Regions from separate parts of the Homo sapiens genome. Here region 2 is linked to region 1. Evidence: fine-mapped expression QTL. A gene starts in region 1. The other region holds a variant in brackets. All regions are shown on one strand. Distances are between the middles of the regions. Region 1 holds the start of UGDH (UDP-glucose 6-dehydrogenase). Region 2 overlaps UGDH (UDP-glucose 6-dehydrogenase).

What was found.
Region 2: its variant is fine-mapped to the expression of UGDH in whole blood (TOPMed, PIP above 0.99).

What each region holds. Positions count from the first base shown.
Region 1 is chr4:39,524,569-39,530,097 of GRCh38, forward strand. UGDH (UDP-glucose 6-dehydrogenase) reads right to left here and starts at 2,871. Exons shown (of 12, transcript NM_003359.4): 1 at 2,715-2,871. It overlaps UGDH-AS1 (UGDH antisense RNA 1), which reads left to right and starts at 3,271. Exons shown (of 5, transcript NR_047679.1): 1 at 3,271-3,770. RefSeq lists silencers at 2,586-2,765, 3,016-3,315 and an enhancer at 3,696-3,755.
Region 2 is chr4:39,501,521-39,506,520 of GRCh38, forward strand. UGDH (UDP-glucose 6-dehydrogenase) reads right to left here. Exons shown (of 12, transcript NM_003359.4): 8 at 4,098-4,228; 9 at 3,717-3,850; 10 at 2,897-2,988; 11 at 2,355-2,465. Among named protein-coding and RNA genes, the nearest start is that of UGDH, 23 kb to the right of the region's middle. The variant A/G (reference allele first, on the strand shown) is at 2,713.

The sequences.
Region 1 (5,529 bases):
CTGGGCTCACCGCAGCCTCCGCCTCCCAGGTTCAAGTGAGTCTCCCACCTAGCCTCCCAAGTACCAAGTACCTGGGACTACAGGTGTCCGCCACCATGTCCAGCTAATGTTTGTATTTTTTCTAGAGACAGGTTTTCACCATGTGGGCCAGGCTGGTCTCAAGCTCCTGACCTCAGTTGATCCACCTGCCTCAGCCTCCCAAAGTGTTGGGATTACAGGTGTGAGCCATCGCATCTGGCCAAGTTCTTTTTTTGAGTTACCTAAAGAACTTCAGCATGTTTCCCCAGAGTTACTTCTTATCTGCCTTGATTGTGAGACCACATTTCAACTTGCTTTACATACATCAGCTGGGATAGACTACTGATGGCAGGTGAACTTGTATCACAGAACTGGATGTGTTTTACACAAGCTTTATTTTGGGTATTCTCGCCTTGCTATTTCCCATGAAATACGGCTTACCGATGACAATGGGAGAATCAATGAAAAGGCTGATGTACAATCTGTGCAAGTCCAAATAAATGCTCACTTGGAAGTTTCAATAAAATCTTCAATAAGCTTTAACATGGAGTTTGACATAGTGTTAGTGACACACTTTGCATGACACAGATGTCTGCCAACTCCATTTTCTATTTCTTTTTTCTTTTTGAGACGGAGTCTCACTGTCACCGAGGCTGGAGTGCAGTGGCACCATGTCGGCTCACTGCAACCTCCGTCTCCTGGGTTCAAGCAATTCTCCTGCCTCAGCCTCCCGAGTAGCTGGGATTACAGGTGCCCACCACCACGCCCAGCTAGTTTTTATATATTTAGTAGAGACGGGGTTTCACCATATTGGTCAGGCTGGTCTCGAACTCCTGACCTCAGGTGATCCATCCACCTTGGCCTCCCAAAGTGCTGGGATTACAGGCGTGAGCCACTGCGCCCAGCCCCATTTTCTTTTCTTTTTCTTTTTTTTTTTTGAGACGTAGTCTCGCTCAGTTGCCCAGGTTGGAGTGCAGTGGCGCAATCTCGGCTCACTGAAAGCTCTGCCTCCCAGGTTCATGCCATTCTCCTGCCTCAGCCTCCCGAGTAGCTGGGACTACAGGCGCCCGCCACTACGCCCGGCTAATTTTTTTTTGTATTTTTAGTAGAGACGGGATTTCACCATGTTAGCCAGGATGGTCTCGATCTCCTGACCTCGTGATCCGCCCGTCTCGGCCTCCCAAAGTGCTGGGATTACAGGCGTGAGCCACCACGCCCGGCCCCCATTTTCTATTTCTACTTTTATGTACCCTCTGGCCCTCTATTCTGCTGTCAGAGACATAGGAGTGTTTCCTTATTAAATGGGTTATTTTGAAATGAGTTTTTACCTCTGTATTTTGGGAGAGTCACAACAAACCAAACCGTTCCAAAACTACTCTTCATGTAAAATTTCATAAATTCAAATAAACATTCCAACCCAGAAGGGGTCACTAACAAATAACAAATGCCCTACTACAATCTAAACGGAATATAATCCTTCTAGCCCCAGCTCTCTACAGCATATTTTGCATAGGTACCCAGGAGCTAACGATGGGCATTATAGTTGGATACATCAGCTTCACACATTTTAATCATTTCCAGAAATTAAACAGTAAAAGATGCCTGACCAGAGAAAAATATTTAATCAGTAAGAAAGCCGGTATTAATTTTATGTCTAAGGGTTATCATGTAAAGCTGTGGAAGTAAACAAGAAGGAAGATGGATTATGCTTATCCAGTTATAGATTTTGTTAGAAAAAGGAGTACAGCAACGGGAGAAGAAATGAGATCTTTTCAATCAGGGTTGTCTACCCCTTACCTTAAACTGGATCCTGGCCACTAATAAGCACATCTCAGAGCAGACAGTCAGCTCTTTCATTTCCAGAACCCCCCTGAAGAAAGACTACTGTTCTCCATTTCTTAAGGGATTTGAAGAAACTCAAAGGCTCACTGTGTCTTTGAGGTCTGTCGATAGACAGCTACTGCTCTGTATGCCCATGAATAGATCCCTACCAGCGAACCCCTCTTTTCTCTATACTAGAATTCCTAACCCTACTAAGTTATCTTCCTATATATTTATAGGACGTATAATTTTTCAAGATCTCACACAAACATGGTCTCCCGAGGCACCCAGGAAAGGCCTTCCCCGACATCAAACAGAGCAATTCTGTGGTGTAGGGGGCCAACAATGGATTCCAGGACATCCCGGACAGATATCACGGCAGTCTTAGTATTTTGCTCTCAAGAGGGCTTTCTGGCTTCGTTTCTCTTTGGTTTCTTAAGAGGGGCGGCATGAGAAAAGCAGGAGCCCCTCAGGTGAGCAGACTCTTAAACACAAACAAAAGACTACGACTCTGCGGCCAAAATGAGGTCCCCAACGAGAGAACCGCTTCCTGTGGTGGGCGTTCGGCTTTGGAGGCGGCAGGGAAATCTCATCCAAGTCAGGAAAGTGGGTAAAGGCAGAAAGAGAAGGGGCTGGAAGACTCACGAGTCTTGAATAAGAAGCCCAGACGACCACATCCCCAGGACAGCAGTTCCAAAATGCGGTTCCCGCCCTAAGCCCCAAAGAGACGAAGGTCGTGAGACGGGAAGCCCGGGACCCAGCGCAGCGAGCGACCGGGAGCAGCGCGCACACCCCAGCCCCGCTCCCTCCACATCCCGCCCAGACCTGGGAGCATCCCGCCCGGGCGGCGGGGCCAGCCTGGGAGCGGCGCTTACCCACTTCCCAGCAGCAAGCGCAGGGACCGCTCCTATCCCGATCGTTCGGACAGCACCTTCCTACGGGCCGCGCCGCCGCAGCTTCTCCACCCGCGCCCCGCTCGATCTGAGCTCCCTCTCGGCGCACGCCCCTCCCTCAGGCTGCCACGCGTTACACTCTGAGTCCCGGGCCTGAGCCCGTATTTAAAGGCTTTTGCCTGCGAAGGCGGAGGCTTCATTCCCCCGCAGCCAGGCCCTCCTGGATTCTGCCCTCAGCTGCTTCCTAGCTCCCCCTCCCGCTACACAAGGCCCAGGGCCAGGTCCCTATTTCCTTCACGGCTCAGGGGCGGGGAGACTGGGGCTGGTCCTGGCTGGGAGGGCCTGCCCCGCCCCTGGCCTAGCTGGGCAAATCCGCTTTGGCCAGCTCAGCGGCTCCGCCCCTACCGCGAGCGGCGCTGGGCGGGGCTGCGTGCGTGGCGTGTCCGCTGGACCAGGGGACGGGGGCGCGCCGCAGGTGTAGGAGCTTTGCGCGCCTACCTGGCGGTCGTGGGTCGAGGAGGGGTCAAGAATTGTTGTCTAGCAGCCCTCTCCCCGCTGCCCTGTCCTGGCCGAGGCAAAGGCCGCGTGCGCTCCGCGTCTGCCAGGCTTTAGGGCTGCGCGGACACTGGGTGGGTGGTGGGCCGAGGCGACCGGAAGGTCCTGGCCGCCTTTCCGGTCTCCTCAGCACCCTGGAGCGCCGCCCTCGGGTTTCGGTCTCCTGGATCTGCGGGTCGGTCTCGGCGGGCGGATTACTCCTCGCCCACAACCTCGAGGCCCCGGGGTCAACCGCGCCCTCCGGGCCGGCAACCCAGGGTTTAGTCAGATTCCTCCTGACCCACCGCTTCTGGGAAAGAGGCGCCTCCCGTCAGGAGGATGCTGAGTTCCTCATGACTGGACCAGTGAGTGTCCACTCCCTGGTCCCTGGCGAGAGAGGCGGGACCCCCACGCCCTCCTGGCGCTCTTTGCAGAGATGTTCCTCAGGCCCAATCCGGGATTTGGGATGTCTGTGCGTGCTGTGGAGCAGAGAGTTTGCAACATGTAAGTGCCGTGCGTGAGGAAGAGTAAAATTAACCTATGGAGCCTGCTCATTTTTAATGTGGAGGGCAGTTCCGTTCCTTTCTTTCGCCGCTTCGAGGTCATTTTAACACTCAAATCTAACATATAAGAAAAAAAGCCAGGCATAATCATGGCCTTTTATTTCCCTCATTAAGGATTACATCAGGTGACATAAGCCATTTTAACATACATCATGAAGAAAGTGATTAGTAATTTATAAAGGCACATTAAAATACCATATAAATTACGGTTTTCTTGATAGGATCATGATGGTGACTTTAAGAAAGTGGTTGAATGTGGATGAAACAGTTTGCTGTGGATTGTAGCACGTGTGGCAGGATATGTAGGCTTGTTGGTTGGTTGTTTTGAGACGGAGTCTCCCTCTTGTCGCCGAGGCTGGAGTGCAGTGGTGCGATCTCGGCTCACCTCAACCTCCTCCTTCCAGATTCAAACGATTCTCCTGCCTCAGCCTCCCGAGTAGCTGGGATTACAGGCGCCCACAACCATGCCCGGCTAATTTTTATATTTTTAATAGAGACCGGGTTTTGCTATGTTGACCAGGCTGGTCTCAAACTCCTGACCTCAGGTGATCCGCCCGTCTCGGCCTCCCAAAGTGCTGGGATTACAGGTGTGAGCCACTGTGCCTGGCCAGTATATGTAGGCTTTCTGCATTCTATGCAGTTCAGTTCATTCATCCAACAAATATTTAATGCCTGTTGTGTGTCAGACGTTATCCTAAAGACTGAAGATGCAAAAGGGATTAAGACTCAATTCCTTTGGCCAGGCACGGTGGTTTACGCCTGTAATCCCAGCACTTTGGGAGGCCATAGCGGGCGGATCACCTGAGGTCAGGAGTTCCAGACCAGCCTGGCCAACATGGTGAAACCCCGGCTCCACTAAAAATACAAAAAGTTAGCCGGGTGAGGCGGTGGGCACCTGTAATCCCAGCTGCTCAGGAGGCTCCCTGTTGCAGTGAGCCGAGATCACACCACTGCCCTGCAGCCTGGGGAACAGAACGAGACACTGTCTCAGAAAAATAACCAAACAAAAAAGACTCATTTCCTTCTTGCAAAGCTCACAGGTTGGGTAGAAGAGATATGTAAACAAGTAATTGCACTAGATATGACAAGTACATCTTTTTGAACATACATAGATTTAAGTTATCTAATACAGTTTGCTTTGTAATAAAAACCACTTATCTTAGTCCCTTCATTTTGAATTCAACATTTTTCTATTTAGTATTCACCTCACATTCTTTTTTAGTATTTTGGTAGAATCAGACTCTTCAAAACGGTTAATAGGATTTCAGAAATTAAGTCAATTTTCAGTGCCAGCTAGAATGGACCTTTGGATTTAGGACAGAGGTTCTCCAAATGTGAGCTGGGGACTGTAGACAATCTCCGAGGTTCTTTCTGGGATCCATGAGGTCAAAAAGTTTTCATGTGTTACTTGCTTTTTTCACTCTTGTTCTCTCAGAAGTGTACAATGAAGTTTTGTGGAGACTATAATGTGCTATCAAAGCAAATAGAATTAAGCTGTTTTTTAAGTCAGATATTAGAGATTTACAAAAATGTAAAACAATGCCAATCTTATCTTTTGTTTTTAAAATATAGTAATTTTTCATTAAAATATGATATTTATGTTAACATGTAATGGGCTTATTGTCAATTTTAAGGAATTAATCTTTTATATATAATTTATCAGTTTTCATTTCTAATATGGTAAATACCAATAGTTACAA
Region 2 (5,000 bases), 23 kb before region 1:
CCTCGGCCTCCCAAAGTGCTGGGATTACAGGCGTGAGCCACCGCACCCGGCCAGCATAATTCTTAAGAATTCAGACTTCAGAGTCTGAAAGGCCCCAGCTGGAATCCTGACTGGCACTTGCTGCATTACCTAAACTCTCTAGGTCTTTCTTCCTCACTTGTAAATTGTGTTACCACCACTTAACTCAAAGGGTCGTGGTAAGTATTAAATTAGGTAAAGTGCTTAGCATACAGCAAGCCAGCCTTCACTAAATGATAATCAATTTTGGTTTTGCCTATTACATTTTTCATTTATTCCATATATTCAAAATCATCATCTTATCATTAAAAACACTACTACTTCAACAGTCATGAATTTATCTCCCCTCCACAGCAGAGATAAACATACTACTCACTTTTCATGTCTTTTGAATTAAAAACTAATATTTAATTCTGACTCGTACCACAAAGAAAGGGCTTCTGCTTTATATTAACCAGTTGTCTCAGTGACTTACAAATTCTCCTTATTTAGTGATTCCATTCCTGTTTTTTTTTAATTTCTCACTAGGAAAGTTAACTTTTACAATAACTTAAAATCATTTAAAATATGTATTTCTCTACATATCTTTTCCCTTAGATGAGTAAAACAGGAATGAGAGAAAATGTGTCTATGCCTTGCAAATAACCTTTTAAAAATAACATTCCTGAGTTTAGTCATGACTGGGAAAAACAGTCATGTTGTTACTCACTAGGGAGGGGTGGAATAGAAGAGTCCCCAAGGTCTTGGATGGAAGAGTTCACAGACAAGGATGCCATTTGATTCTTTCCACAAGTAAATCTCTCATGAATGAGAAATGGGCACTGAATTCTAAATAAGGACCTTCAACAAGTTGGTGAGAGGTTAAGAGAACCAGATCAGATATTTTTGAATAGCAGATTAGGCCTTACTGATACCTCTCCAAGATAGCTGGTGCTGAGATGTGCATAGCAAGCTGTCAAACACTGCTGCTTTTCTGCTTGCTTGGGCACTACATTGACAACAACCCCCTGGCATATTTTTTTATTCTCCCTAACTTACTCCACCTCCCCATCCTCCTATCCCCATATACATACTGCTCTGAGGAAATGGAAAATAGCTCCTTATTAATACCTTTGGGACTCCTTGGAGAACTGAAATAGATGTAACCTACAAAAACACTGTTCTGGGTGGAGGCTTCTGTCAGCTTTCCAAATGTTCCATAATTGACAAACTGTTTTTTGTTTTTTGAGGCAGGGTCTTGCTCTGTCACCCAGGCTGGCATGCAATGGCATGATCTCAGCTCATTACAACCTCTGCCTGCTGGGCTCAAGCAATCCTCCCACGTCAGCCTCCCATGTGGCTGGGATTACAGGCACAGGCCACCAAGCCTGACTAATTTTTATTATTTTTTTTTCCCAAAACGGAGTCTTGCTCTGTCACCCAGGCTGGAGTGCAGTGGTGTGATCTTGGCTCACTGCAACCTCCGCCTCCCAGGTTTAAGCGATTCTCCTGCCTCAGCCTCCAAAGTAGCTGGGATTACAGGTGTGTGCCACCACACCCAGCTAATTTTTGTATTTTTAGTAGAGATGGGGTTTTACAGTATTGTCCAGGCTGGTCTCGAACTCCTGACCTTGTGATCCGCCCGCCTCAGCCTCCCAAAGTGCTGGGATTATAGGCGTGAGCCACCGCGCCCAGCAATTTTTGTATTTGTTAATAGACACGGGGTTTCACCATGTTGGCTAGGCTGGTCTCGAACTCCTGGCCTTAAGTGGTCTACCTCCACAGCCTCCCAAAGTGCTGGGATTACAGGTGTGAACCACTATGCCTGGCCAGTTGACAAACTTTGAATCAGAAGAGGGCCAGTACCATTGAAACTCCCATATGTTTCATTCAGACCCCTCACAGCACTGGCACAGTGCTGAGTACTCAGAAGGTATAGGATGAACACCTGCTGATTGACCAAGACCTCTTTCTTTCTCTACCTTTAGATCGCAAATTTAGGGAGGAAGTAGAGAAGTAGAGTAGTCAGAAAAATCCCATAGGGACTTCCTAAAGAACTGACATGTTGCCCCAGAGTTACGTTACTGCTAAAGAAAATAAGAAAATTCTAAAACCCACACAATGGGTTTAAAAAGCAAATGAGCACTTTCCTAATTGTTGAAATAAACTTCTGATATTGATTTGGTTCCCCAAAAGAACTTCCCTAGAAAGAAGGTATCATCTTAATTAGCCAAACATATTCTGACCTGCTGTGATGGTCTTTTGATGTCAACTTGACTAGATTATAGTCCCCAGTTGTTGAATCAAACACTAAAGACCAAACAAAAAGAAAAAAAACAATCCAGGATCATGATTACCTGGAAGCCAATGGTTTGTAGTTCATTGTGGAGCCCATCCAGGACACGCCGTCCATCGAAGATAAAGGCTGGCTTTAGCATTTTTTTATGAATGCGTTCATAATCCAATTCCTGTAAAGACAAACCACAGGAACAATTAAAACACATACGTGGGCCGGGCGGAGTGGCTCATGCCTGTAATCCCAGCACTTTGGGAGGCCAAGATGGGTGGATCACGAGGTCAGGAGATCGAGACCATCCTGGCCAACATGGTGAAACCCCGTCTCTACTAAAAATACAAAAAATTAGTTGGGCGTGGTGGCAGGAGCTTGTAGTCCCAGCTACTCAGGAAGCTGAGGCAGGAGAATGGCGTGAACCC[A/G]GGAGGCAGAGCTTGCAGTGAGCCGAGATTGCGCCACTGCACTCCAGCCAGGGCGACAGAGCGAGACTCCATCTCAAAAAAAAAAACAAAAAAACAAAAAAACACATACATGAACACATACTCAACCCCAGCTGATAGTGGAACACCTCTAGAATTTTCCTTAGTATCTTTTCTGTTACCTTACCTTAAACATGTCCCACTCAGTGCAAATAACAACAGCATGGGCACCATCACATGCTTCATATGGATCCTTGGAAATGGTCACGAGCCGGGACACTGTAACAATAGCAACAACAAAAAAACAGAAATAAGAAAGGAGTTATATGACATTACAGTAGTTCCCCCCTTATCTGCAGGGATACATTCCAAGACCCCCAGTAGATGTCTGAAACTGTGGAGAGTACTGAACCCTATATATACTTACACACATACCTGTTTTTTGAATCTGATTGCCAAAAGTTACTAAGTGACTAAGTAGCATATGGAATGTGGATATGCTGGACAAAGGAATGATAAATGTCCCAGGCAGGATGAAGCAGCACACAATTTAAAACTTATGAATTGTTTATTTCTGGAATTTTCCTTCTAGTACTTTCAGACTGCAAGTGACCGCAGATAACTGAACCCGTGGAAAGCAAAACCACACATAAGGGGATAGTACTATAGGTATTCTAACACTAGGACTGCAGGAAGAGTTGGGAATAATCTGATTGCAGTATCAATGGGAGTGATGGTGGGAGGCCCCAAACCCTGCTTTGGAAGCATCTCTTTGGAATTTTGGGGATTTGTGGAGTATGTTGGAAAAATCAATGGACCAATCCACAGCTGATCACTTCAAATCAATGTTGATGACATTATGCCTAAGACTTTAATTTCAGAGAAATGAGGTTGAAAAGAGGGCCTACCAATGATATACATGATAAAACTGAACAACCTAAGGTTTCCAAAAGATAAAAAGTTTTCAGGTCTGGACTCAAAATGATTCATGAGACTCAAAGCCTTACCTTGGTCATCCTCTGAAACACCTGGATGAGAAAGATCCACAACTATTTGTTCCCTAGGTACTTTTGGATCATATATATGTAGATGTGCACCTTCATCCATCAAATATTTGCTAATATATATACTAGAAGATTCTCTATAGGAAAAAAAAAATCAGTATTGGTAAGCTTTATGTGGCATTATATTCTAATACCAGGGAGTTTAAGATACAGGTAAAATTATATTTCTGAAGCTGGTAGAGTGGTGAAGATATGGATATTTATTTTTATTCTTTATATTTTATATATATACATGTATTTTATGTACACCTACCCCAATCAAAAAATTAAGATGAGGAGTTAACACAATCTCAAAAGGGTTGAAATATTTTTAAAAACTGATACCTTGTATCACCAGTGTCCTTTTTGAATGCAAATCCCAAAATAGCTATCTTCTTATCAGTTACTGTATTAAACAGACTATCTATGATCCGGGAAGCAAACCTCCTCCTCTGGTAGTCATTCATGTCTATGACCTGAAATTACATGTACAATTGTGCAATGATTAGTTAAAAGAGGCACAGCCTATGACACACATTACTCAGAATTTTATGGTGAGTGCTATTGTACAAATACAATGCTTACATATTAACAAGAGGCAAAAATTAACCAAACTCTAGTGCCTATGGATTAAAAAAAAAAAAAAATCACTCATCCCCTTCCTTAAAGCCATCCTAGGCCAGCAGTGGTAGCTCATACCTGTAATCCCAGCACTTTGGGAGGCCGAGGTGGGCGATTGCTTGAGCTCAGGAGTTCAAGACCAGCCTGGGCACCACGGCGAGACCCTGTCTCTACAAAAAATACAAAAATTAGCCAGGCAAGGTGGCATGTGCCTGTAGTCCCAGCTACTTGGGAGGCTGAGGTGGGATGGCTTGAGCACAGGAGGCAGAGGTGGCAGTGAGCCGAGATCATGCCACTGCACTCCAGCCTGGGCGACAGAGCCAGACCCTGCCGTAAATTTAAAAAAAAAAAAAAAGCCATTCTAAAAATTTCTAATTTCATTTGGCTTGATTTTCTATGCATAAGGCTAGGATGGATGCCAAAAGTGGAGCGCACAACCAAGTTTTAATTCTAAGCGCATTTGAGGTTCAGCTATGAGACCAACCTAAATAAGGCACATAGGAAACCATACTATCCTTAGTCCGTGTCTCCAAATTCTGTGGAAACAAGCTACAAGCAATGAAACCCCAAAGTATTCCTTCATTTGCTTGTGCCCCACTATTCACAAAAATTCAGTTTCAGTGGAAA